4 linked regions of the Homo sapiens genome follow. The protein of the gene in region 4 interacts with the protein of the main gene of each other region in a pairwise test. Each region holds a gene or a part of one and is shown on either strand. Other genes may lie near its edges. The genes, in order: PLEKHF2, TRIM54, ZMYND12 and SEC14L4.

What was found.
Region 1: the proteins of SEC14L4 (region 4) and PLEKHF2 interact in binary tests that used the Homo sapiens proteins (3 or more experiments, as listed by UniProt).
Region 2: the proteins of SEC14L4 (region 4) and TRIM54 interact in binary tests that used the Homo sapiens proteins (3 or more experiments, as listed by UniProt).
Region 3: the proteins of SEC14L4 (region 4) and ZMYND12 interact in binary tests that used the Homo sapiens proteins (3 or more experiments, as listed by UniProt).

The regions. Positions count from the first base shown.
Region 1 is NC_000008.11:95,129,467-95,136,784, reverse strand, and holds the start of PLEKHF2 (pleckstrin homology domain-containing family F member 2), read right to left. Parts: upstream 3,001-7,318; 5' UTR 2,755-3,000; intron 1-2,754. UniProt on the Homo sapiens protein: May play a role in early endosome fusion upstream of RAB5, hence regulating receptor trafficking and fluid-phase transport. Enhances cellular sensitivity to TNF-induced apoptosis.
Region 2 is NC_000002.12:27,292,424-27,299,448, reverse strand, and holds part of TRIM54 (tripartite motif-containing protein 54), read right to left. Parts: intron 883-7,025; coding exon 710-882; intron 205-709; coding exon 33-204; intron 1-32. UniProt on the Homo sapiens protein: May bind and stabilize microtubules during myotubes formation.
Region 3 is NC_000001.11:42,431,998-42,439,022, forward strand, and holds part of ZMYND12 (zinc finger MYND domain-containing protein 12), read right to left. Parts: intron 4,547-7,025; coding exon 4,424-4,546; intron 3,389-4,423; coding exon 3,277-3,388; intron 1,292-3,276; coding exon 1,146-1,291; intron 1-1,145. UniProt on the Homo sapiens protein: Required for sperm flagellum function and male fertility.
Region 4 is NC_000022.11:30,488,688-30,495,712, forward strand, and holds the end of SEC14L4 (SEC14-like protein 4), read right to left. Parts: intron 6,956-7,025; coding exon 6,896-6,955; intron 6,756-6,895; coding exon 6,567-6,755; intron 6,275-6,566; coding exon 6,179-6,274; intron 5,524-6,178; coding exon 5,463-5,523; intron 3,871-5,462; coding exon 3,787-3,870; intron 3,469-3,786; coding exon 3,362-3,468; intron 3,287-3,361; coding exon 3,147-3,286; intron 3,056-3,146; coding exon 2,886-3,055; intron 1,560-2,885; coding exon 1,420-1,559; 3' UTR 1,192-1,419; coding exon of another isoform or gene 1,190-1,191; 3' UTR 215-1,189; downstream 1-214. UniProt on the Homo sapiens protein: Probable hydrophobic ligand-binding protein; may play a role in the transport of hydrophobic ligands like tocopherol, squalene and phospholipids.

The sequences.
Region 1 (7,318 bases), on a different chromosome or scaffold from region 4:
TAAGCAGGCAGCTCATGTACAAAGCTGGTTCATCAAAGATAAACAACAACAAAAAAATTTTTCATATACTTTCTATTAAGCAGGGCATTCTAAAAATTCTAAGACAATTCCGGCAAAACAATAATTGATAGAGCTATAATGAGATTTGTTCCAAGAGCTTAAATGTATAAATATGACCTTTAAATTTTTCAAGCATTAACAATATTTCCATCAAGTTCAAATACATTCAATCACACTTAAAATTATGATTATAATCCTTTTGATGATCCATGGCTTCTCTCTCATACATCAGTAATTATACTTTAATCCATTATCTACTTAGAAATTTCATAAATATTCAAGTTCTGTACCCCCAGGCGAAAATTCACTCAGGTACTAAGTTAAATTCTCAACAAAACAACAACAAAACATGTGTGTGTGTGTGTGTGTGTGTGTGTGTGTGTGTGTGTGTATATATAATAAAAACCAATCTGTGGATTTAATGGAGTTGATGGCATGTATTGGGAAAAAGACTACAAAGAAGATTTAACTATGATGCTCATGGAATTTACAATTTCAAAAGAAATTCATGAAGCATATTTACAAGGAACAAACATACGTGTACTCATCCATTCAAACCTTTCCTGAGCATCTGCTATGTTCTTGGCATGCAGGGAATGAAGAGGCAAATCAGACCCGATGTGTTGCCTGCTGTCAAGGAGATGTCATGACAGAATCTATGCGATATTTACAGTAATACCATGGGAGAAATTAATTGATTTCTGGAGAGGGCAAGGGAGTGGAATGAGAGAACAGAGCAGAAAAGGCTTCAAAGAGTATAGGCTTAAGTATTTTTAAGGAAAAAATTTCATCACAAGGATCACCTGTAAATCAGCTCGCTGGGAAATAAGTATTTATACTGAAGAACTAAATTCAAGTCAGAGCAGTGATAAGAGCAAACGAGATGGACAGATTGCTCCAGAAGACTGAGTTATGTATCCTACAAAGTTATGCTACAGGAAAAATGAAAAGGCTTCAGAGTCATAAGATCTCAGTTAAATACCAGTTTGGCTGCTACATTTGTGAAATTAGTTAATTTCATTTCTAAATAAAAAATGTTATAATGCCATTTACTTGACAATGAAGCAAAACTAAAAGAATTTTTAAGAACAACAGAAATTGGCAATACAGCCTGAGCAACATGGCAAAACCTTCTCTCCACAAAATTCAAACAAAAATTAGCCAGGTGTGGTGATGCGCTCCTGTAGTCCTAACTACTCAGGAGGCCGAGGTGGATCACCTGGGCCCCGGGAGTTTGAGGCTGCAGTGAGCGGAGATGACACCACTGCACTCCAGCCTGGGCGACAGACAGAGACCCTGTCTAGGAAAAGGAAAAGGAAGGAAGGAAAAAGAGAAAAAAGGAAAAAGAAATTGACAATCAAATATGAGCAGAAGCTGTATTTTTAGATCTAAAAAGTAAAATTCTCCAAGAATTTGGGGTTTTAGGGCTTACTGTATTTGTGTTTAAGAGCCTTTTCAGTTCATTTAACAGAATTTTAAAGCAAGATGTCTTTATTTAAAAATCATTTAGATTCATTTACTGAGGCTGAATATTTTCTTCTGAAGCTTAGTCACTATACTAGTTTTATTTAGAGGCCGATTACGTGTGCTTTCCAAATAAATAGCTTAATACCATTCATTCCCCGTGTGGTCGGGACCCAAAGAGATTATAATGAAGCCTTCGTTAATACTGAATTAACGTGAAGACCCCACGAGCTGCCAGAGTATTTAAAAAAAGTAAATGCTCAAAACGCGGTAGGCATTCACCCTTAAGAAACTAAAGGGAGGGGAAAAAAACTTCAAACTGTCAAGATCACTTCTTATTCTTAAGAGAACACATGCCTTTAAGACTCTCAAAGTTTCTGTCTAAATCTTTCTTTAATGAGTCTCTTCAGCAACGTACTACACAACACGACAAAGAAGGCATTTATCAACAACGCGTTTTGTGAGTCTATGAATTACCGAGGAGGGCTTAGGTGTCTGTAACCTTCATACCCACTTCCACCGCACACTCAAGTTATTGCTGGAATGTACGGAGAGCACACAAGGCTATTCAAGCAACACCGGCAGCGCGCTCTCGGCCTTCAATCACATTTTTAAAAAGAAAAATAAATTCGTCAAAGGATCATAAAACTTGAAAAGGCTCCAAATAAATAAACCATCGCTTCTATCAGAGCAAGTTCTGCGGGGCCATTTTCGTCTCCCAAGTGACATACAAATATGTAGTTCAGGTCATAAGGTCCCCGACACGCAGACCCTGCAAACTTTTCGGCCAGAAATTTGTCGCGACCCTGAGACGCCCCCGGCCGTGTCCAGGACCCCCGTCCTCAGGCCCCACAACTTCTCGCCCGGCCTCGGGGCTCCTTCCCGCGTCCGCCGGCCCCCGCCCCGCAGACCCGTGGACCGGACCCTACCCGGCGGCCCCCGTCCCCCCGCGGCGGCGGCGGCGTCCTACGGGCGGGCGCGGCTCGCTCCCGGGCTGGCGGGACGGCGGCGGCAACTGGCCCGCGGGCCGGCCCCGGCGCGAGGGGAGCGGCCGGGAGCGCCCCGTTTCTCACAGACCCCAACATGGCGTCGGCCGCCACCGCCCGCGACGACGACACCTCCCGGCGCTGCGACGGCTCCGGGACCGCGGGAGGAAGCGCCCGGAAAGTTTCGCGTCTCCCCTCCCGGCCCGTCAGGAGCCGGCGGACCACCCACCCGGGCTTCACCTACCCCGACGGCCGCGGGCGGCGGCGGCGGCGACAGCGAAGGCGAAGGTCCGATCCTCCTGGTCGCGGACGCAGGGCGCGGACTCTGCCCGTTCCCCGCCGGGGCCTTCCAGGGTGTGTGCTGTCCGCAGCCCCGCGCAGCCGGCGCGATCCAGACGCGGTGGGCGGGCTGGCCGCCAGCGCAGCCGCTCGCAGGTGACTCCCCCGCCCCTCCAGTCGAACCCGACAACGGCTGCCTGGGCTGGCCTCTCCCCTGCGCGCGCACGGGCGCGCCCCCGTCCACACTCCGGGCGCGAGCGCGCGGGCACGAGCACACCCACACCCCTCGCTCCCCGCCCTTTCTTGCCAGTTCCCTCGCCCCGCCCCTCGCGCCCCTCGCGACGCGCTCTAGGGGCGGGGCCTTTGGCGGAGGCCACACCCACTCAGGCCGGCCGCGGGCGGAGCTTGTCCATGTGTGAGGTCGGGACGCGCTCCCGCGACGCGTTGAGGTGCACGTGAGGCGCCTTACCTGACTTTCCTGACTCCGACCAGCCCTTAGAAAGTATTGCTCAACTGTCTACGAAGTTCTTAGGGAGACTGGAATAATAGAAGGAAGACACCTCCCCACCCACAACAGGCCTCCCCGGGGAACTGAAGAACGAGAAAGGCAGGCTTTGGATCTAAATGCCCAAAGGCATCGGTACTGGCATTTGCTGCTCCCATTTAGCACAGCAATCCTTTCCGTCACACTTTCCCTTTGCTTTACCTAAAATCCCTCCTCTTGAAACCAAGGGAACTGCGGCGACACACACATACCCTACGTGCTCCACCCAGCCCTTTCTTTTAAATGCATACTTTAGAATTCTGGTCTTCCCAAAACTTTGACGACACAAAACCCCATCAGCCTACTTCACATACCTAGAAACTGTAATTATTGCATAGTATATAAGGTTAAATGTGCCCTAATTGATCTGATAGCTAAGCGCTCTGATGGGTTCGTAGAGAGGTAACGAAGTTGCTTAGGGTAGACTAGGGATGGGGGCGAAGTAGGGAGAACAGCATACTTATTTTAAACAAAGTGTGTGTGGTGTGTAGGAGGAAATTGGGTTTTGGTAAATTTTATATTTCTTATTCATCTATTACTTCAGTAAGTTGTTTTAACCTGTGTTTGATTGCTGTTGAATTAGAGTCACTACCAGCCAAGCTGCACGTGGATGAGCACCTAGGGATGAGAGCAGACTTGGGTTCCGCCCTGCTCTTCCACCTGGGATCTTCCTCCTCCAGGCTTGTTGCCTCCTATCCTCCCCTATTTCAATAGAGTTTGTCTCTGAAACAAACAAGTCTTTTTTTAAATTAATAATTAGAACAAAATTGGCAAAGATGAACTTTTTTTAAATGGGGAAAATTGTATGATCACACACACACAATCTTTCGTGTGTTAGAGTTGTCTCTAGATGAGTACAGATGTCACCAGGACGCTTGTCCGTACCATCACTCTACCTCATTCACCTCTACGTGCACAGCAATATCTATCAGTGGGGAAAAGGCAGGACTAAATAATGCCTAAAATCCTTTTAAATTTTGAAAGTAGGAATTGCTATGTCTGACTGGTTGTCTAAGGTCAAGCCTAGAGCATTAGTTATCAAATATTTTTGGTCACTCACATTAGTAAAAATGTTTGCCCTCCTCACTTCCCATGTACTTATTTAGCTTAAGTAAAGTGCATAGATAGAAGCCAGAATGACTGTAATCAAACATTGGCTTTGTCTCTAACAACCTTGGCACATCCAAAGATAACTTTGGTTTTTTCACTTGTAAAATGGAGATAATAAAAGTATATCACAGAGTCATTATGCAGATGAAATGAATTAATATATGTAAAGCATATACCTGGCACACAGTGCTTTACAAGTGTGAAATAAAATTATTACATACATAATATACACATTTATATAGTGCTACGTAAGTGTGAAATAAAAGTTGTTACATATGTAATATACCCAGCTACTCAGGAGGCTGAGGCTGGAGGATCACTTGAGGCCAGGAGTTTGAATCCAGCCTGGGCAGCATAGCAAGACCCAGTCACACATACACACAGAATTATATGTATGATATATATAGTGTGTATTTATATACACACATACACCTATTATAATATACCTAGTATGTTAGGTACATTAAAAAACAACATACACACACAAAAAAATCAGAAATAATGATTTTAAATATATATATGTATGTTTTCTTTCTGTACTCTTCATAGTCTATGCCCTCCCTGGGCTGCGTGCACCCCAGTTTGGAGACCGTTGATTTAGATCTGTGCTAACAAATACAGTAGCCACTAACCACATGTCTTAATTAAATGTAAATTTATTTAAATTAAAAATTTAGTTTCTCAGTCACACTGACCACATTTCAAGTGCTTAATAGCCACATGACTATTGGACAGTGCACATATAAAACATTTCCATCATTGCAGAAGTTCTATTGGATAGCACTGACCAATCTGGAACAAAGCAGGGAACTCAAAAGTCACTGAAAGGAAGTAAGATTCACTCCTACCCGAACCTGTAATTGTGGTACCCTGTTCAAGTCAAGTGATAAGACAGCTCTTTGAGCCTCACATCTCAACCGTAAAATGAAGATAAAAATAGGAATTACTGGCCAGACACGTGGCTCACGCCCAGCCCCATCCTCCCACCCGCCCAATTTTTTTTTTTTTTTTTTGAGACAAGAGTCTCACTCTGTGGCCCAGACTGGAATATAGTGGCGTGATCTTGGCTCACTGCAACCTCCACCTCCCAGGTTCAAGTGATTCTTCTGCCTCAGCCTCCCAAGTAGCTGGGATTACAGGCATGTGCCATCATGCCTGGATATGTTTTGTATTTTCTTTTTAGTAGAGACGAGTTTTCACCATGTTAGCCAGGCTGGTCTCAAACTCCTGACCTCAAGTGATCCACCTGCTTCAGCCTCCCAAGGTGTTGGGATTACAGGTGTAAACCACCACACCCGGCCTATAATCCCAGCACTTTGGGAGGTCGAGACAGGAGGATTGCTTGAAGCCAGGAGTTCAAGACCAGCCTGGGGAACATAGTGAGACTGTGTCTCTACAAAACAATTTTTAAATTAGCTGGGCACTTGGAGTCCCATCTCCTCAGGAGGCTGATGTGGAAGGATTCCTTGAGCCCAGGAGGTCAAGGCTGCAGTGCAGTGCAGTGAACAATGATCCAGCCACTGCACTCCAGCCTGAATGATGGAAGGAGACCCTTTCTCTTAAAAAAAAAAAAAAAAAGAAAGAAAAAAAAAGGAACTTCCTCATAAACTGCTGAATGGAGGAAATAAGATAATGTGTAAAGTGTATGACACATTGTTAAAACATAGAGGAACTTGAAAAGATTAGTAAAACTTGAGTTTATATTTCCCCAATTTGTTTTTTTAATTTTTTACATTTGAAAATAAGAGATTGGGTCTTGCTTTGCTGCCCATGCTGGATTCAAACTCCTGGGCTCAAGGGATCCTCCCTCTCAGCCTCTTCAGTAACTGGGATTACAGGCATGCACCACCAAGACTGACTAACCCGATTCTTTAATCCTGAAAGGCAAAAAAGATCACGTTATTGTTCTTGAATCTAACGTGTATCTTGTAAAAGTGAATAGTTTGGTTAAGTTTTAATTGAAAATAGAACATTCAAGAAATGATAGGATGGCAAATACCTGGATTTTAATTACTCCTTGATTTCTTTGTCCCCTCCACTTTTAAAGGCTGGTCTTCTCCCAGTTTTGCCCATCTCAGTAAAACGGCACTGCCATCCACAAACCTGATGAGCCATCATCCTGTCATCCTTTTTCCCATGTCCTCCATCCAATCTCTTTATCTCCAAAATATTGTAGGATCTACCTTCAAAACACTTTATCTCATCTGTTCTCCTCTCCTCCTGGCCCCTCCACACAGGAGCCACACAGGATTGTGTCACTCCCTGAAGAAACATTTCCATGGCTCCCCACAGAGGCTGCCATATAGAATTGTACAGTTGTGGTAGAACAACCCTATGGGAGAGTGCATTCACATTGGAGGCACTGGAAATTTAATATTTATTATGAATATTTTCTGGCAGATTTTAGTGAAATGACTCATTCTAACAAAATTATCTTACAACAATTTTCCAACAAGATGGAAATCTAATTTGCCCAGACATGCCACATAGAATAAGAGCGTTTCTCTTTCACTTAGTACGAAATACCAGCTCATCACCTGGTTCTACAAGACCCAGCACAATCCAGCCCCTGCCATCCCCTCCAACTTAAAATGATGCTACACTCCACCAACTGCCATTCACATTGACCTTCCATCATTTCCTAAAATAAATCAAGCTCAAAAGAGCTGCTGTGGCGCTCACTGCCCTGGACACCTCTCTACCTGGATAGTCACAACTCCACAGTCTCTGCCCTTCACATAGCTGCGGCTCCTTGTCATGTTTCAGTCCTCTGAGAGGCCTTTCCTGGACACTATGTCCTCAGTTACTCTCAGTCACAGCCCTTTGCTTGTTTCCCTCACAGAACTTACAGGTCTCCCTGGAGTCTGAAACCTGC
Region 2 (7,025 bases), on a different chromosome or scaffold from region 4:
CTCACATATCTACTCCCTCCCCTGTTTGATACCTTCTGGCGTTTGTAAATGGTGGGCAGTGGGGCCACCTCACAGTCCTTGTGGGCACCGAAGACCTTGCAGAGAGAGCAGGTGGGCACCTCACAGCTCAGGCAGTAAATATTGATCTTCTCTTCTTCATGCTCCTCGCACATGAGGTGCTGCTCAGCCTTGGAGTGCAGCGGCCTAGAGAGGAGTGGGCAGGGGGAGGTGGACCTTAAGCATGAAGGGTCCTAGGAATACCTTCTCTTCAGCCTCCACCAACTGCCACCACCTTCTCCGCCCCTGCAGCTAGTGCTGTGGCTGAACTGGTGAGTACTTCCACAGAGCTCTGAATTTGGGGAACAGAAGGAGCTAAGAGATAGAGGAGGCCTGGATCCGAGAACAGTCTGTATTACAAGGGGGCAGGGAAGTCCCACAGGACAGGAAGTCTTGGAGGGTTAGCGAGGATCTTGCTGGTGGACTGCCAGCCTCTCCCAGGAGGAGAGGGTAGGAGTGAAGTACTGGCTAGGGAATCAGAGACTGCCCTCTCTGGGAGGCCTGAGGCAAGTCCCTCTCCGGATCCAGTCCTATGGTCTCTAGACAGAACAGGCAGGTTGACCGTTTCAATCTCTCCCTTTTGGCTCTGATGGGTTCCTTGGCTGTGTCCCAAGCCCTGTCATGAGAGAGGCAAGAGACTCTGGTGGCTCACCTGGATGACTCCTGCTTGTAAATGTCGATAATGTTCTCCACTAGCAGGTTTCGCTGCAGGCCGTAGACACCGTGTCTGTCCAGGACAACCTCATGCCTGCACGATGGGCAGCGGAAACGGCCTCCTGAAGACACAGTGGTGGAGCCCCGGGACTGCCATAGAGGATTCGAGGCCTGCAGGGACAGATGGCTTGAGAGAACAGGCACGGGGAGGCATGAAGGGACTCGGAGGAGGCAGGGGGAAAGGGCTTGGGGGCTAGGGAGTAGGAACTTGATGGAGGGGAAGATGTCAGCTCTTCTCTGTGGCTGGATCCACCTCTGAGAGCAGCGCACGGTGGACGGCCATGGAGACCCTGCTTCCCACCTTTGCCTCATTATTCAGCCCACCTCCTAGAGTGCCCCTGCATCCAGAACTCAGCTTTGGTCAAGGCATAGTCAGGATGGGATCTCTCCAAAGGGGTCCAGCTTGGAGCCATGGGGAGACATTGGTCTTGGCAATAAGGCTGAGGCAGGAAATGAACTCTGAGTGGTGCGACCAATGTCTTCCAGTCTGGGGCCCTCTTGGGCCACAACTGGAGGAGATTCTCTGCAGTCCTGGGCAGGGGTACAAGCAGATACAAGTGCTCAACAATGGGGTTCACAAACTGTAACTAGCCAGGTAATTCTAGAAAATTGCTCCAGGAACTGGAAGTCAGGAGTCCTGGGTTCTTGTGCTATCTCTGATGCCCTCCCCCCGGCCTTTTTTTTTTTTTTTTTTTTTGAGACAGGTTCTTTCTCTGATGCCCAGGCTGGAGTGCAGTAGTGGGATCACAGCTCACCGCAGCCTCGACCTCCTGGGCTCAAGCAATCCTCCCATCTCAGTCTTCTGAGTAGCTGGGACTAGAGGTGTGTGCCACCATGCCCAGATAATTTTTTTTATTTTTAGTAGAGATGAAGTATCACTATGTTGCCCAGGCTGGTCTTAAACTCCTGACCTCAAGTGACCCTCCCACCTCGGCCTCCCAAATTGCTGGGATTATAGGCGTAAGCCACCATGCCCAACCTCTTAAGTATATAAATTTAGGCAGGTATTCAACCTCTGTAAAGCTGAGGATAAAATTATTCATTTATAGTGTGCCAGGTAGTTGCTGGACTCTGAGTTAAAGATACAAAGAAAATGCATCCTGTCCTAAGGACAAGCACCTGACAACTGCATCCAGCAGGATGGGTGTTGTGATAGGGGTAGGCTCAGAAGGAGGACTTAACAGACACCCATCACTTCCTCCGGCTTACATCTCTTGCCTAGAGTAGTTGCTCCATCCTATCCTAGAAGGGAGATCCCTGCCACAGATGATTGATTCAGAGCTAAGGAGGTGATCACCTGACCCAAGCAGAACCAATCAAATATTCTCTCCTAAGAATTTGGACTTGAGACTCAGGGGCTTAGCTGGCTACGCCATGTTCTGCTTAGGAATTGAATAGACCTGTGGAATTGGGCTAAGAGCTGACATCACGGCCACCCTGGAAAGTGTAAGGGGTCAGAAACTGAACAGAGAAGGCTGGTCTACAGAGAAAAGAGTCTATGTGTGGGGAGATGCAGAGATGAAAGACTGGCAGACACTGCTTATTGTACCCTGACGTTCACCACCTTTTCTTCTTTAATAATAAGTGCCCTGAGTTTTAACAAGACACATGGTATAAAGGGCTGGGTGTGGTGGCTCATGCCTGTAATCCCAGCACTTTGGGAGGCCGAGGTGGGCAGATCACTTGAGCTCAGGAGTTTGAGACCAGCCTGGGCAACATAGCAAGAACTCATCTCTACTAAAAATAAAAAAATTAGCTGGGCACGGTGGTGCACACCTGTAGTCCCAGCCACTTGGGAGGCTGAGGCAGGAGAATTGCTTGAAACCAGGAGACAGAGGCTGCAGTGAGCTGAGATAGTACCACTGCACTCCAGCCTGGGCAACAGAGGGAAACTCCATCTCAAAAAAACAAACCAAAAAACCCATGAATCTAAGCCTCCCTTCCAGCTGGGTGTGGCCAATTGGCTGTGCTCTGGGATGTAGATGCAAATGTTTTGTGTAATTTGTAGGAAATTGCACAAACCGTCTTTCATGGGAGGGGCATGCCCTGCTCCTCCCCTTTTCTCCTGCCTGCTGGCTGGAAAGAAGACGGGATGGCTCAAGTTGAAGCAGCCGTCTTGAGCCATGAAGTGGCAGCCACATGTTGAGAATGGTAACGAGATGAAAGGAGGTCTCTGATGAGGCAGTCCTGCACTGTCCACCCATACTTTCACTTGAGAATAAAGCAAATTTTTACCCTCTTTAAGCCACTGTTATTCTGGGGTTTCTGCCACTTAGAACAGAACCTAATCCCAACTGGCTGGAAGATTATGCATTCCTAGAGAGTAATGGAGACAGTGGTCACCTATGAGCTAGCATAGTGAGATGCACTTCCTACAACTGGGATGCATGAACTTCTCCAAACCCTTACACCATACACAAACCAGAAGACAGTTTGGAAGGCCCCTTGCGTGTGTGCAGCAACACCCCATCATGCACAGAGTGCAGCCAAGTCAAGGGTCTTGTTTGATCCTTTGGTAGCAAGGGCTGTAGGCAAGGCAGGAAACGTGGACCCACTGTGAAGTGAGCAGCTTATCTTGGGGAGAGTAACTGGTGTGTGCCATAAATATCACATCTTTCTTGGGATTTCTTGAGAATCATGTTAACCTTTAAGCCCATCATAAACCTGGGGCAGATTAGTTTGAGATAATTCAAGGCATGTTTGTACATCTGCCTTCTCAGTAGCTAGAAATGTATGAATATTGTTGAGTTTAGTTTAGGGAATGCGTTAAAGTGTATAATCACTTGCCTTTTGTTTGCTTAATACAATTACTTTTCAATATTTAGAACCCAAGTGAGGAAAGAGGTGTTGGGAGAACTCTAAGGCTGCAGTCTCCTGTCTTTCTTATCTTTGATTTGCTGATGGCAAGCATATAGAGATATTTGAATGGGAGGAAGGGGGACCTATATCCCACAGCAAAGATAAACTCTTGGGCAGCCGCTCTCCCCAACCTCCATCCCTCACTGCACCCTTCCTCTTCCTGAGCCACAAAGGCAGGGATACTCATTACTTAACATTCAACAAATGTTTTGAGACCAGGCGCGCTGGCTCATGCCCGTAATCCCAGCACTTTGGGAGGCCGAGGTGGGTGGATCATGAGGTCAAGAGTTCGAGACCAGCCTGGCCAACACGGTGAAATCCCGTCTCTACTAAAAATACAAAAATTAGCTGGGTGCGGTGGCAGGCGCCTGTTATCCCAGATACTTTGGGAGGCTGAGGCAAGAGAATTGCTTGAACCCGGGAGGTGGAGGCTGCAGTGAGCCAAGATCATACCATTGCACTCCAGCCTGGGAGACAAGAGTGAAACTCCGTCTCAAAAAAAATATGTTTTGAGGGCTTATCATGTGTCAAGCATCGTGTCATGGGTTTTCCAGACATTGTTGTATTTATTCCTCAAGAACTTCTTGTAAAGATGGTTGAGGATCCCAGCTACTCGGGAGGCTGAGGCACAAGAATCACTCAAACCCTGGAGTCGAACCCAGGAGGCCGAGGTTGCAATGAGCCGAGATTGCGCCATTGCACTCCAACCTGGGCGACAGAGCAGGACTCTGTCTCAAAAAACAAACAAACAAAAAAAGATGGTCGAGGAGGTGAACAATCACTCCTAACTTAGTCTACAAGAAATAGAATAATAATGGCTAACATCTACTGAGCCAGGATTTGCTCTAAGTCTTTCATTTGTATTAATTCACTTAATCCTCATATCAACCCTGAAGTAGGTAATACTCTTTTTTTTTTTTTTTTTTTTTGAGATGGAGTCTTGCTCTGTCGCCCAGGCCGGAGTGCAGTGGTGCAATCTCAGCTCACTGCAACCTCCATCTCCTGGGTTCAAGCGATTCCCCTGCCTCAGCCTCCCAAGCAGCTGGGACTACAGGCGCCTGCCACTATGTCCGGCTAATTTTTTTGTATTTTAGTAGAGACAGGGTTTCACCATGTTGGCCAGATGGTCTCAATCTCCTGACCTCATGATCCGCCCACCTCAGCCTCCCAAAGTGCTGGGATTACAGGCGTGAGCCACCATGCCTGGCCCTGAAGTAGGTAATAGTCTTAGCCCCATTTCAAGGATGAGGAAATTGTGTCTCAGTGAAATTAAATAAATTGTACACGGTCATGAGCTAATAGGTGGCAAAGCCAGTACTGGAACTTAGGCACTCTGACTCCAGAGCCTGTCCTAATAATCATTGTGTTCCATTGTCAGACACAATAAAACTTAGGCCAGGCTGTGCACGGTGGCTCATGACTGTAATCCCAACACTTTGGGAGGTCAAGGCAGCAGGATGGCTTGAGTGCAGGAGTTCAAGACCAGCCTGGGCAGTACAGTGAAACCACGTCTCTACAAAAAGAAGAAAAAGCAAGATGGCTCATGCCTTTAGTCCCAGGTATTTGGGAGGCTGAGGTGGGAGGATCACTTGAGCCCAGGAAGTCAAGGCTGCAGTGAGCTGTGATCATGCCACTGCACTACAGCATGGGTGACAGAGGGAGACCTGTCTCAAAAACAAAACAAACAAAAAACAAAACAAAAAAACCCTTAGAGCTAATATTCATTTCTCTGAGTCTCAGGCAGAGGCAGTTTCTTTTACTGTTGTTGTTGTTGTTATTATTGTTGTTGTTGTTTTTGAGACAGAGTCTCACTCTGTCGTCGGGCTGGAGTGCAGTGGCAGGATCTTGGCTCACTGCCACCTCCACCTCCCGGGTTCAAGCGATTCTCCTGCCTCAGCCTCCTGAGTAGCTGGGAGTACAGGCACGTGCCACCATGCCCGGCTAATTTTTTGCATTTTTAGTAGAGATGGGGTTTCCCCATGTTGGCCAGGCTGGTCTTGAACTCCTGACCTCAGGTGATCCACCCACCTCGGCCTCCCAAAGTGCTGGGATTACAGGTGTGAGCCACCTCACCTGGCCGTTTTTTGTTTTTGTTTTTTAAGTAAAAAAAGTAAAAGGGTAATGAAGGAACAAACCTCAAACCTTCACAGAGGAAAGAAACTACAGCCTGAAAATCAACTATGCAACTGTGGACTAAAGCTATTTAAGCAAAGATCAACAAAAGATGACTCATCAAATTAAAACCCTGTGTGCCATGGAGCTCTATAAGGGCCCTGCTTTCAACCAGAATGACCTGTTTGTCTGTGAAATGGAGAGGAAATAGCTCAAATCTCAGGGGAGACCTCCTCCCATGGACCTGTGTGGGCCTCTATGGTAGATAAATCACCGGATTCTGCGTGAAAAATACTCCAAGACAACACAACCAAATTGAGACACTCAACTACCTATTAATTCAGGTCATACCCCTCTATTCACCAAAGAAGGCACAGAACTAAAGAGAGATTGCAAAACCAATGACAACATCCAACCAGGCAGCTTATATTTAAGAGGACAGTGAAAGAAAGCCAAGATAAACACAGTGGGTTGAGTCAGGAATTCACCTTCAGCTCCAGATAAAAGTACCCTGATAAAAGGGGAGTGATAAGCAGACAGAATCCAACAAAAGATGCAAACCAGATAATACAAAAAGAAAAGAAAAAAGAAAGCTTGACAAACAAGGGACAGATACTCCAAGAATCAATACCATTTCGATATACCATTTTAAAAGAAATAACAAAAACAAAGAGATATAAGTGATCAAAACTGGAGAAGAAAAGAGAGCTGGCAGAATTAAGGAAAGAAATCAAGTAAATATCAACACAGAAAAAAAATCCACATTTGACAGGAGAATGGATGATGCTGATAAAAGTCACATAGATTGCAATAGAAATTATCAGCTAAAAGTAACCAGGTCTGCAGTCTGTAACATGGATAAACCTTGAAGACATTATGCTAAGCAAAATAAGCCAGACACAAAAGGACAAATATTGTATGATTCCTCTTAAATGAGGTACCTGGCATAGGATGGATGGTGGTTGCCAGTTGCTGGAAGGAGGGGGAGTAGGGAGGTATTGTTTAAGGGGTGTGGGGTTTCAGTTTGGGGTGGTGATAAAGTTCTGGGGATGGATAGTGGTGACAGTTTCACAACAATGTAAATGTATGTAATGCCATTGAACTGTACATTTAAAAGGTTAAGGTGGTACATTTCATGTTATGTGCATTTTACAAAAATTAAAAAAAATTTTTTGAGACAAGATCTCTCTCTCTGTCGTCTCAACTTCCTGGGATCGAGGGATCCTCTCACCTCAGCCTCCCAAGTGGCTGGGACTGCAGGTGTGCCACCATGCCCAGCTAAT
Region 3 (7,025 bases), on a different chromosome or scaffold from region 4:
TCCTCTCTCTCCCCCTGCCAACTGCTTTTTCTTCTTCTTCTTCTTCTTTTCTTTTTCTTTTTCTTTTTTTTTTTTTTGAGACAGGATCTTGCTCTGTCACCCAGGCTAGAGTGCAGAGGCACAAGCACGGCTCACTGCAGCCTCAATCTCCTGGGCTCAAGTAATCCTCTTATCTCAGCCTCCCGAGTGGCTGGGACTACATGTGCACACCTCTAGCCCGGCTGATCTTTTTATTTTTATTTTTAGTAGAGAGTGGGTCTCATTATGTTGCCCAGGCTGGTCTTGAACTCCGGGACATAAGCAATCATCCCTCCTCAGCCTCCCAAAGTACTGGGAATACAGTCATGAGACACTGTGCCTGGCTAGTTTTCTTTATAACAGTTTCTACTATCTGAAATTATATTACACATACATATGTTTATTTCCACTCCTCCAAAAAACACCAGTGCCATAGAGATAGGAAACGTATGGATCACCACTGTATCCCCAGTCCCTAGATTAGTGCTTTACAAATGGTAGATTTTCAATAAATGTTTGAATGAATGAGAGAATCAACCAATAAGTCAATAAACCTGAGATATGCTACTTGCTGTCTGTAAGACATTGGGCAAAGAATTGACCCTCTCGGTGCCTCAGTTTCCTTGTTTGTAAAGTAGAGATAATAAAATAGCTACCTCATTAATGTTGGTGTAAGCATTAAGTATGATAATTATGTAAAGGGTTTAGGCCAATAACTGGTAGGTAAAAGTACTCAAAAAGTTACTTTTTGAATCATTTCATGGCAATGCATTTCTGCCTGAATCCCCGCAGCAACAGGGAACTCAGTAACTGAGTGGAGTTAGAGCGGCTACTTCATCCATCCAAGGCTCCCCAGAGCCTTCCTGCCCTGCAGGCTTCCCAGCACTGCCTCAGACTCTCTTTATCTATGCAAGACTGGGAACCCTCGGGGGAAGAAGACAATCCAATTTCCATTATGCAGGCTAGACTCAACACAGGAGAAACATCGTGAGCATCTGAACCTCTTTGGAGTGAGGGCTTGCTCTGAGGGCAAAAGCTATTGGAATTGGGCAAAACACAAATTTTGAGTTCAACTAGTTGAATTTCTACCTTCATTTTAGACGTGTTGCTTTTTTAGGGAAACTTGCCTTTGAAGAATTCATCATCAGGTAGTAAAACATGACCAGGATCTTCAGAACAAAGATGGTTTTTTGGGGGGCTTTGTCAGATGTAGATTCTCGAATGTTCAAGATTGAAGTCAGGATGCGAATGGCTTCTGCTTCTTGGGCTTCATCTGCATTGGAAGGGGAAGAAAGAAAAAACAGGCTCTTGGCAACTGAGTCTGCCCTCATCAAAAGCACTCAGCTGTTAAAGCGCCTGGTCTGCTGAAGCCTTCCCAAGGGCACTGGTGGAAATAGCACCAATTACAGCAAGTTTTTTACCTAGAGGACTCCCTCCAGGTGCAAAGCAGGAAGCTCCGAAGCAGGAGTTTCAGACCGCTTTCCAGCTTTGCTTAGCATGCCATTATCAGAGTAGCCTAAAAATAGGCTCACTCCCACAGGTCCCAAAGTTGCTAAGGTTTCTCTCTTTCGGAGTCCTGAACTCTAGATCTCTTGGGCTTACAAACACAGATAATCTGCCACAGGCAGATTCCTTGGGTCCAACTCAGATTCCACTCTACAGCTGAGAGGAGAGAACTGGGGGAAGGGACTTCTTGCAGCTGCAGCAGCTTAACTCTTCTCGTCTAGGCCATAGATGCGTAAGCAACAACCTTCATGCTTCCCTCTGAGAGTCTGTTTACTATTTTCCCCAGTAGTTTTTGGTCCTACTTTAGTCATCATTTACTGAGAAGTCACTACATGCATTTAAAAGCACTTATACAAGTACTAAGCTTAGAGAAAAAGACGAAAAGGATATACACCATCATGTTAAGGTTGGCTATCTTTGGATATCTATGATTTCCAAGTTTTCAGCTATAACATGAACTATTTACATAATGAGAGAAAATTCAATAAAGTTATTAATTTTTTAAACTTTAGCTCAAAACCTCTCCTCCAAAGAGTCTTCCTTCTTCAACACCACCCAGCTGTCCTCACCTCTTCATTCTGGGACTCATCTTGTAACATAATTTGTACTCACAGGAATGTTCTTTTGTTATTGCCTATAGGTTCTATATCACCAACTGCACTGTATGTCTCTTTTGAGCAGAAACTAGATCCTCTGTGTCTTTTCATTGTCTCTGAGGGCATGATGCTGTACGGTACTATTCAACACTTAGCCCTTTGCTGGCCCGGGGAATACAGTTTAATCCAACTGGGCCCTGCCACTGAGAAGCTCACTGTTCAGTAAAGCATGAAGTTAAGGCACCAGAAGAAATCAGCAATGCACCTTCTGTGTAGAGTCTACCTTGGCTTACGTGTCCTGGAGCAAGAGTCCCCAACCCCCAGGCCATGGACCAGAACTGTTTTGTGGCCTGTTAGGAATCGGGCTGCACAGCAGGTGGTGAGCAGGGGTGGTAGGGGCGAGTAAAGCTTCATCTGTATTTACAGCCACTCCCCATTGCTTGCATTACCACCTGAGCTCCACCTCCTGTCAGTTCAGCAGCAGCATCAGATTCTCTTAGGAGCGTGAACCCTATTGTGAACTGTGCATGCAAAGGATCTAGGATGTACACTCCTTATGAGAATCTAATGCCTGATGATCTGTCACTGTCACCCATCACTCCCAGATGGGACCATCTAGTTGCAGGAAAACAAGCTCAGGGCTCCCACTGATTCTACATTATGATGCATGGTATAATTATTTCATTATATATTACAATATATTAATAATAATAAAAACATAGTACACAATAAATGTAATGCACTTGAATTCTCCTGAAACCATTCCTCCCACGCCCCCCAGTCCATGGAAAAATTGTCTTCCATGAAACGGGTCCCTGGTGCCAGGGAGAGATTGGGACTGCTGCCCTGGAGGGATAACATAGAAATGGATGCTCTGCAGAAATCACAGGGGGCTTTGATGTGGTCTTTTTTTCCCTCTAAATCTGTCCCTTAGTAACCCCCGAATGGCTATGTGTGATGATAGGGATCTGAATTCTTCCCAACACTGGTAAAATCTCTTTGATCCCCGTGTCTCAGTTTTCTCCATCAGCAACATGGGGAAGGTGGCAATGGTGTGCTTCATGACAGGGACAGCTGCTTTCCCTCTTAGGGACAAGGTCTGTGTATTGGGTGAGATGAAGTCACTGCTCTCCCTTCAGGGAAAACTGCCACTTACCCAAGCCAGTGTCATTCTCAAATAGTTTGCCCAGTAAATCCATTTGTTGGATGTGAGCCTGTGAGAGGACTTGATAGTGATTGTTCAAATATGCATGCCAGATCTCAGAGACCTGTTGGGAAAAGAGATGGTAATACAACAAGCAGGCCAGACCTCAGCCGTCGGACCAGGCAGGTGAGGAGAGTAGCGCATTTGGCCGGGCTTCTGGACAACCTGGAGGTTCTCTCTCTTACTGTGCCTGGAGGCAGAGGGAACCCTAGGAGCCCAAACAGGCCTGGCCAAGGTAAGTGTGACAAGTGATGGGCTGAAAAGGGCCTGTGGCAGCTCATCTTGGGGTAGCCCTAGTGGGGTCTAATAACAGTGGTTATCTTTTGTATAGCACACACAACACGAAACCTTCACATCCTCACAACATCCTGATGTAATATTCTTATTATTCCCATTTTACATGTAAATAAACCGAGGCTCAGAGAAGATCACACACGACTTCTGGTAAGAGCTGTTAAGTGGCATAGCCAGAATTTAAACCCTGGTCTATCTGATTCTAAAGCTTTTAAACTACAGCAAAATGCCTCTTTCTCAGAAGCAGGTCTAAAACATGAATCAACAATCAGCAGAAAGCCTGTATTACACATTTATTACACAAATGATTGCCTGCTAAGTGAGGTGTTACTATATGGATACAGCTGACATTTTAATATATTGGAAACAGTTTAAAATATTTTACATGTAAATATGGAAATTTCTCATGTTCTTGGATCCCTTGACAGGATCTTGTAGCAACAGACTTCCCTTGGAAATCTCCTTCTCTATCGCACACTTCAATAAGCCCACATTAGCTTGCTGCTATGGGTATGACACAGCATACAACAGTCTATCTGAAGGGGTTTGGCTCTTACTGACCTGTCCTTCATTATTCGTTAATCACCCTACGGATGTTAAGGGTTAGTCTATTTTGGTAGTGGAGACACTGGAAGAAAGAAAATGGAGTATATCATGTATCAGGCTATATAGTCTTGGGCAAGCCACTTCATCTCTCTGTGCCTCTCTTTCTCATGAATGGTATGTTTTTCATGAATAGTCTAATACAAGTTGTAAGACACCAAGCCTAAGAGTGAAGGCTCAGCTCCCACATTCCCCAGCTCACCTTGGTGTACAATGTGTCTGCCAGGTCCAACTTTTTAAGGTCATAGAATATATTAGCCAGGTGGAAGTAGCCTCCTGAAGTCCTAATGTCCTCTGTTCCAAATGCACAACTGGCAAAATAAATCTATAGCAGAAGGAAGAAGGAGAGTGCTTGAGTTCCTTTTGCAAATCATATATCTGATAAAGGACTTGTATCTAGAATACATACAAAAAACTGTTACAACATTCCAATTTAAAAATGGGCAAAAGATCTGAATTGACATTTCTCCAAAAAGATATTCAGATGAATAATAAGCACATGTATAGATACTAACATAGTAATTAGGTAAATGCAAAACAAAGCTATAATGAAATATCACTGCATCTAGGATGGCTAGAATCAAATACAGAAAATAAAAAGTGTTGGGAAGGATATGGAGAAAATGAAACCCTCACACATTGCCAATGGGAATGTAAAAGGGTGCAGCCTCTGTGGAAACAGTTTGGTAGTTCCTTAAAAAGTTAAACATAGAGTTACTACATGACCCAGAAATTCCTCTTCTAAGTACCTACCCACAAAGACTTGTACGTAAATGTTTATATCAGCATTATTTAAAATACACAAAACATAGAAACAACCAAAATGTCCATCAACTGATAAATGGATAGACAAATTGTAGTATATCCAGGCAATGGAATGCTAATCAGCAATAAGAGGAATGAACTGTTGATACATGCAACAACATGGATGAATCTCAAAATAATCACCCTAGGTGAAAGAGGTCAGATGCAAAGGACCACACATGATGCTGTCTGTATGAACTGTCCTGAGAAGGCAAATTTGTAGAAACAGGAAGTGGTTGCTGGGGCTGGAACAGGAATGGGAAATGACTGCGCATGGATACAAGGGATCTCTTTGGGGTAATGGAAATGTTCTGAAACTTGATTGTGCTAATGGTTGCGCTACTCTGTAAATTTGCTAAAAATAATTTAATTGTACACGTAAAATGGGTGAATTTTATGGTATATATCAATAAAGCTCTGTGTGTGTGTGTGTGTGTGTGTGTGTGTGTGTGTGTGTTTAAAAAGCTAGGCTAAGGAATCTGAGCTTGTGCTAATTTTTTTTTTTTTTAAAGACAGAGTCTCCCTCTGTCGCCCAGGCTGGAGTGCAGTGGTGCGATCTTGGCTCACTGCAACCTCGCCTCCCGGGTTCAAGTGATTCTTTTGCCTCAGCCTTCCGAGCGGCTGGCATGACAGGCACACACCACCACACCTGGCTAATTTTCATATTTTTTTTTTTGGAGACTGAGTCTCACTCTGTCGCCCAGGCTGGAGTGCAGTGGCGCAATCCTGGCTCACTGCAACCTCTGCCTCCCAGGTTCAAGCAATTCTCCTGCCTCAGCCTCCCAAGTAGCTGGAATTACAGGCACATGCCACCACACCCAGCTAATTTTGTATATTTAGACGGGGTTTCACCATGTTAGTCAGGCTGATCTAGAACTCCTGACCTCTGGTGATCCGCCCATCTCGGCCTCCCAGAGTGCTGGGATTACAGGCGTGAGCCACTGCGCCCAGCTAATTTTTGTATTTTTCATAGAGACGGGGTTTCACCATATTGGTCAGGCTGGTCTCGAACTCCTGACCTCATGATCTGCCTGCCTCAGCCTCCCAAAGTGCTGGGATTACAGGCGTGAGCCACCACACCTGGCCTACTAATTCTTAACTGTGTGGCCCAGCTCAGGACAGAATGTGCCTCTGCTTAATTTGTTGGAGGATGTAGAGTATAGAGAGGAAACACAAAGAATTGTATTAGTCAGGAGCCCAGGTGGAACTAGATGGCACCCTCAATAAGATTGCCTGAAGATAGTTTAGTGGAATTATTACTTGACATGTAGAAGGGTTAAGAAACCAACAAGGGCTAGGGAAAAGCCCTACGAGTAAAACCAACAAAGCCTAGTGAAACACCAGGGACTACCAACAGCAAGAAACTATTACCATCCCTACACCTGAAACAGCAAGGGGAGGAAACAAGGTTACCAGGGCCCAGCAAGAGCTAGCACTATGGAAGAAGGCTGCCTGACAGGAGCTGTGGCCACAGAGGAACACTGTTCCTGACAGATCAGGGGTGGGGCAGAGAGGCAGCAGAGAGAATCAGTACCCCAGCCTTTTTCTCCTCCTACTCTCCACTCCCCTACTATGCCTTCCACTCTCCAAACCCAACCAAGGCCAGAGAGCAATGGAGTCCATAGAGGTTGTGTAGTCCATAGAGGTCAGGCTCCCAGGGCATAGAGTAGGGCAGAGAATGGATATGGGTTAGTGGAATTTAAAGAATAACCAGCGTAAAATTTAATTTACGGGCATTGTACAGGCGGGCAACCAGAGGAAGGGCTGCTTGGTGCAGAGGCCAGAAGAGAGGCTGAAGAGAGAACCAACCTGCATGGAGACTGCAGTCTGACTCTACGCTAACTCAGATTTCACGCCCAGGAACTCTTTTCTCTGGTAATATTTTCCAGTACTGAAATCCTAATAGAAACCCCTTAAATTTTGAAAGAACAATTCAGTTATCATCCTCAACATCCCATCTAACTTTGTACAGAGTTTTATCATCGATAAGTGCTTTCTTA
Region 4 (7,025 bases):
GCCTGCCATGGAAGCCCAAGTGCCTCTGGGCACTCCAAATATCACTGCATCTGGGAAAGCAGCAGACAGCGTGGCCATGCAGTGCAACAGGGTAGTGGGGATGCCTGTCACATCTCCGATGCAGAGGCAGCCCCTGGACATGGGGATGTCCTGTGACTCTTGCCCGACAGCCCAGGCCATCTCCTTGGAGCCAGCGCAGCCATTTTTTTTTTTTTTTTTTTTTTTGCCAATCTGCTCAAACACCCAGTTGGAACAGGAATGCCTCGTGGCACTGGCTTTAGGAGTTTAATCTAGATGGTTTGCTGTTTCTAGCAGCAGAGCACCTGTTCAGACTCTACGTATATGCACCCATGAATGGTGCAGCTGCCAAGAGAACCAAAGCTAAATGTTGGCAGGATCACAGCAGGTGTGGAGGGGAGGTCACTGGGAATTCCCTGGAGACTCAGTCGTTACCCACTCAACTGGAAGGCTGAGCATGGCTTTTTCCTCTGATGGTTACCCATGCCAGGCCCCACCTCTCCATGTCCAATGTTCTTTCTTTATTTGTTTGTTTGTTTGTTTGTTTGTTTAGAGACGGAGTCTGGCTCTGTTGCCCAGGCTGGAGTGCAGTGGCACGATCTCAGCTCACTACAACCTCCGCCTCCTGGGTACAAGCGATTCTCCTGCCTCAGCCTCCTGAGTAGCTGGGATTACAGGTGCACGCCACCATGCCCGGCTAATTTTTGTATTTTTAGTAGAGACAGGGTTTCACCATGTTGCCCAGGCTGGTCCCGAACTCCTGATCTCAGGTGATCTGCCCAACTCAGCCTCCCAAACTGCTGGGATTATAGGCGTGAGCCACCACGCCCAGTCCATTTCCAATTTTCCATCCAGTGGTGGCAGAACAAACTTGGATGGGCCCCAGTGCTCTGCTGGAACCAGGACCCTCACCCAGCTGCCTCCAGCTGGGCCTGCCCACCCCTGCTGACCTCCTACATGCAGAGAACAGGGCTTCTCTGCTCTTCAGGCCTGAAGCTGTGATGTCCACAGGACCTAGGAACCACGCACACCCCCTGAAGCTGGAACACCAGGCATGGGTGAGTCCTGGGTGGCTGGATCTTGTCAAGATGGGTGAAAGGGCAGCTTCTGCAAGCAGGACCCATCCTCAGTGGACTGGATCATCTTCAGCGTTCTCATTCTCAGCCGCATTCTCTGGGAACAGGGAAAGAGGTTCCTGTCTGAATCTTCAGCATGGGCTATGCACTGGTGGCCCCTTCCTGCTTGGCCACTGTGCCAGGTGAGCCTACAATGAGATGAAATGGTGACGTGGGACAAGTGGCTCTCTGCAGCCACCTCCAGCACCACCCTGCCTGGGAAGGCAGGGGTCAGAGGGGTGGGTGTGAAGGGGTTGGAGTGCACAGGTAGAGGTGGCTGGGGTCTTCACTGTGTTGGGGAGGGTCTCATCGCCTTGAGACTCTGCAGCGTCTCCTCAGAGGCCTTGTCGGGAAGCAGCACCTCCACAGTGTAGCTGAGCTTCTTGGCATGCATCCGGCTGTAGGTGTTGTCGAAGCGCAGGACATCTGCAGTGATGGAGAGGTGATCAGGGAGCACAAACCCCGCACATCTGCAGGAAGAGCCAGCCCTGCATGGGTGCATCCCTGGAACCCTTGGGAATGAGCTGCATCCCTGGAACGTCCTGCATCCCTGGAACCCTTGGAAATGAGCTGTCCAGGACAGTGGGTGGGGCCTGAGGGCCAGCCTGTGCCCAGCCCTAAGCCCATTGCTCGCTGCCATCTCCATGGTGGCTTGCGCTACATGAAGGAATCATGATGGTCATCAGCATATAGAACAGCACACAGCCAGGGAGCAGGCGGCCTGGGAACGGGATCTCGAGCTCCACCTGCAGGGAGGAGCTGTGGCCCACGGACACAGTATGCTCGTACTGCGTCCTCGCCTAGTTGCGGTTGCACAGGTAGCTCTTGGGCCTCTCCATGAACCATGGATTCCATCACACATTATAGCCCCTGAATCCTCAAAGCAGCCCCATGTGGAAGGCAATGTCATCCTCATTTTACAGAGGAGAAAACTGAGGCTTGGAGAGGTGATATGATCTTTCAGCGGTCACAGAGCAAGGGAGGGGAGGTACTGGGATTCCTTTATCCAGATGTCCCAACCCAGGGAGGAGCCCTGCTACCCCAGGAGGAATGGGCTGGGCTACATAAGCCGCTTTCCGTCTCACAGAAGGCATGTCCTTCAATGCCAAGGTCCAACATGAACTCAGGTGTGATGAGTCGTGCAGACTTGTCTGTCTCTACTCTCCTAATGCTCCCTTTCCACAAAATGAAATAAGGTAATGTGTTGACTTAAGCATAAGCCACACCCTTCTCCTCCATAGGAAATCAACCTTGGGTTCCCCTTCTCCTAGCTCTGTTCCCAATAGATGTGGAAGGGCAGTGGTGTCCCTGAGCAATGCTACTTCTGGTAAAGCTGACTGAGCTGCATCTGGCCTGGAAGGCCTGGGGGTGAATGATAAGCACCTGGAGGAAGTCACCTCTTTGGGACTCCTGGAGTGGGGTGGTTCATGCAACTGGGTGGTCCCCTTGCCAAGACCCCTGACTCTAAGTCCATGGCCTCTTACTTACCTGTCTCTTAGTCCAGTGATCCCGGTATAGGGGCTTCTTAGGAGCTGAGCCCAAGGCCCTAGGTTCTGAATACCAGCTCTTCCCCCACAATGAATCTCTGCCCTCATACCTACAGGTAGGGGCCACTCATCTGATCCATGGCCCCAAAGCTGGCTCCCCTGGAGCTTACAGAGATCCCCCCACCCTCCCGAGAGCTGGAAAGAGAGGGCAAGCAGAGGGGAGACTGGCAGGGAAAACAATTCCAGTAAACCCCGCAGCTCTTACAGACGCCAGCCTGGAGGCAGGTGAGGCTCCCATCCTCAGGCACCATGTGGGCATTGTAGCGCTGGCTGGGCAGCACCTCCGTCATCTCCCTAGCACTCTGCTGCTCCCCCATCTTGGTCTTCAGGAAAACCCCAAAGCCGATGTCCCCACCATCTGAAGCAAACTGCCACCTGCAGTGGATAGAGCCCCATTGGCGACCCCCTGCCTGGGCTCCAGGCCCCTCCCAGATGTGCCCAGGTGTAGAGTGGCTGCCATCCCTACCTGAGCACACAGCCCGGGAACAGGATCTCGTTCTCCACCTGCAGGGAGGAGCCGCGGCCCACGGACCTCGTGTGCTCATACTGCAGCCTCACCTGCTCGCACAGGTAGTAGCTCTTGGGCACCTCACCCCCATAGTTGATCTGTGGGTGAAGGGGGTGTGTGGGCACTAGATCACAGCTTCTCCCCTCCTTCCCCATCCTCTGGGCACCCTGTACCTTGGTCAGGCACTTGGGGTTGCCATCGGGGTCAGTCATGGTCCCCCCAAACTCCACAGGCAGCTGGTCGGGGCTGATGAATTTTGTCAGCTCCTGCTTCCAGTTGTCTGCATGGGAGCAAGAGAGGGACTCCAAAGGGACTCAGGAGACTCAACAGAGGGCAGAGGGGGCTGAGCTTGGTGAGGGAACCTGATATGTCCTGGGCGTGCTCCCCCGGGCACCTACTCCTAAGAGTACCCAAGACCTTTATGTGGCTCCCAGCCCACGGTCTAGGACCCAAGGCATTGCCCGTGCGTGTGGAGGCTCACCAGGGTCAGGCCAGGGGTAGTGCCCGAGTAGAGGACGAGCCAGGGAGAAGCAGGGTCTTTAGCATTGACCTCTGCTTCCCAGGCAGATGGACACAACCAGGGGGCCACGTCGCTCACCTCCCAGAATCACAATCTTCCTGCGTGTCTCCTCACTCATGAACGACTTGACCAAGTTGAAGGCCACGGGGAACAGTTTTGGGGCTGAAACACATGTAAATCTCTTGAGAAGCTGGACCAGAAAGGACGTGGGGATACAGAGCCACAGCCAAGAGCAGGTGCTGGACAGGAGGTGGACAGATATGGATTCTGCCACTCTCTGCTGTGTGACCTTCAGCAAGTTACCCACCCTCTCCAAGTCTTAGTGCAGTTAACTGGAAAATGAAGGTGAAATAATGTATGTATAACACCTGGCACAGTTCCTGGCTTTCAATAAATGGTTGTCTCAGGCCAGGCGCAGTGGCTCATGCCTGAAATCCCAGCACTTTGGGAGGCTGAGGTAGGCAGATCACTTGAAGCCAGCAGTTCAAGACCAGCCTGGCCAACATGGTGAAACTCCGTCTCTACTAAAAATACAAAAATTAGCTGAGCGTAGTGGTGCATGCTTGTAATCCCGGCTACTCGGGTGGCAGCGGCACAAGAATTGCTTGAACCTGGGAGGCAGAGGTTGCAGTGAGCCAAGATCACGCCACTGCACTCCAGCCTGGGTGAGAGAGTGAGATTCCATCTCAAAAAAAAAAAAAAAAAAGAAAAGAAAAAAGAAAAAGAAAAATGGCTGTCTCCCCAACCCAGTTGTAAGGGATTGGGCACAAGCTGGCTCTAGGGTCAGCAATATTGATTCCCCAACAGTATCACTTCTTTTCCACACTCCAGGTTGTCTGGAATCTTCTTGGGTGTGACATCTACATGAGACTTCCTGTCCTGCCCTGAATTGCTCACACTCAACTGAGCACTGTCTGTGGGCCAAGCTCTGTGCTCCATCTTCTCCACACACTGTTTCATTTAACCTCATAGTTATCTTTGAGGAGGGGGCTATTGTATCCCCATCTTACATAATGGGAAAACTGAGGCTCAGTGAGGTTAAGTAGACTTGGATAAAATCATAGAGCTAGTTAGATTTGAACCAGATCCTCTGACTCTGGAACACATGACATCACCAGGGCAGCCAGGGACCATTCCCGCTCAAAGTGTGTCCATCCACTAGTGTGGTCCATGGACTATCTGTTCCCAGCCCACACTGACATAAGTAAGTAACAGTAAACATTTAGAAACTTATAACTTGACATTGCTGAAACATACCAGTGCATGATTTTGTATATTACAAAAATATCAGTCTGTGAAGGACTGAAACTAAAAAATAAAGCCAGAGGCCGGGTGCGGTGGCTCACATCTATAATCCCAGCACTGTGGGAGGCCGAAGTGGCTGGATGACTTGAGATCAGGAGTTCAAAACCAGCCTGGCCAACATAGGGAAACCCCATCTCTACTAAAAATACAAAAATTAGCCAGGCATGGTGGCGTGCACCTGTAATCCCAGCTACTAGGAAGGCTGAGGCAGGAGAATTGCTTGAACCCAGGAGGCGGAGGTTGCAGTGAGCCAATATCATGCCACTGCACTCCGGCCTGGGTGACAGAGGGAGACTCCATCTCAATAACTAACTAACCAGAAACCAACCACACAAAACCTGGTTCTTCACAAAGGATGGGTGAAGAAGCCTTTAACTCCATGGCTTACCTACTGTACCCCCAATTCCTGCTTCTCCCTCCCCAGGAGGTCATCCCGGTCATGGGCTTACCTCGAATAACAATTAAATTCTTCAGGGTCTCAGGATAATTTGCTTCCAGGATGCTAAAAAACTGTGGAGTCAAGATGAGTCTGGTTGGGGCTCTGTTCCATCACCTCCCGCCCATGGGTTTCTGTGGCCTCTGATGCTGCTGAGACAAGAGGCCCATCCCTGGCCCATCCTACCTTCCCCACAAGCATGTGCCTCTTCCTCTCTGTTATTCTTTTTTTGTTTGTTGATTTGTTCTCGAGACAGGGTCTCACTCTGTCTCCCAAGGTGGAGTATAGTGGCACAATCACAGGTCACTGCGACCTTGAATTCCTGGGTTCAAGAGATCCTCCCGCCTCAGCCACCCAAGTATCTAGGACTACAGGCACGTGCCACTGCACTGGGCTAATGTAAAAATTATTATTATTGTTGGTAGAGATGACATCTCACTGTGTTGCTCAGGCTGATCCTGAACTCCTGCTCAAGGAATCTTCCCACCTTGGCTTCCCAAAGTGCTGGGATGACAGGCGTGAGCCACCACGCCTGGCCTCTTTGTGTTAATCTTGCTCCCCTTTCTCCGTGGAGGGTGGTCTCTAGGCCAGCATCATTGGCTGGTCTGTGGAGCCCCTGCAAGGCATCCCCACCCCTCTATCTCACTGGATTCTCACATCAATTCACAGCTAGGGCTCACAGCTGGGAGCCACTGCCCACACCAGCCCCAAGCCAGCCACCCACCTTACCTGCTGGTAGACCTCCACAGCTGGCTTCCACAGGTGTTTCAGGCTCAGCCCCTCCATGTCAAACACCATCAGCGCCATCTCGATCTTCCTGCCCAGCTGCTTGGGACAGAGTCATATAGGTCAGACGACAGCTCCAGCCAGGAGATCCTGGCCAGAGAGACTTGGGCACCTCTCCCCACCTTCCTGCCATCCCACCCTCTGGCAGCCCACAGCGTTTTCCAGACAGATGGACAACACCTCACTTTTACGGGTGGGTAAGGGTGGGAGAAGCCCACATTCCACCAGAGCCCTGGGTGCTGAGGGCTGGGGAGGGGCAGGGTGCCACCCTTCTCTGGTCCTGGTGCCACCCTGTAGACAGATGAGGCCCAGCCCCACCCCCGCTGCTCACCTTCTGAGTTTGCAGCTCACACTCATGCAACAGCAGCTCACAGACTTTGATGCGCTTCCGGATCATATCCTGCTTGGAGGCTGACAGCAGGAGACCCTTGGGGTCGAGGGACCCAATGATGTTGAAGTACACAGGGCAGCCTTCGTAGTCGTAGCCACAAAGACCACCCGAGTCATACAGCTGGATGACCTGGAAGTGTGGGTAAGGTCCCGACTCAATCCAGCTCACCAGGCTGGGTCCCTACTCCATCAGGTGGCTGGACGTGGTAGGTGGGAGATGTCAGGGGTGAGGGGCCTCAGATGGCCTGGGGGATGCTGCTCGAGGCTCACCTCAGGGGGCTGCCATGTGACAATGTTGTCCAGGTCTTGTTGCTTCCGGAACTCCATGTGCTGCAGGAACACAGCAGGAGCTATAGGATTTTGCAGGAACCTGGGGACACCAGGCTAGGTCCCTCTGCCC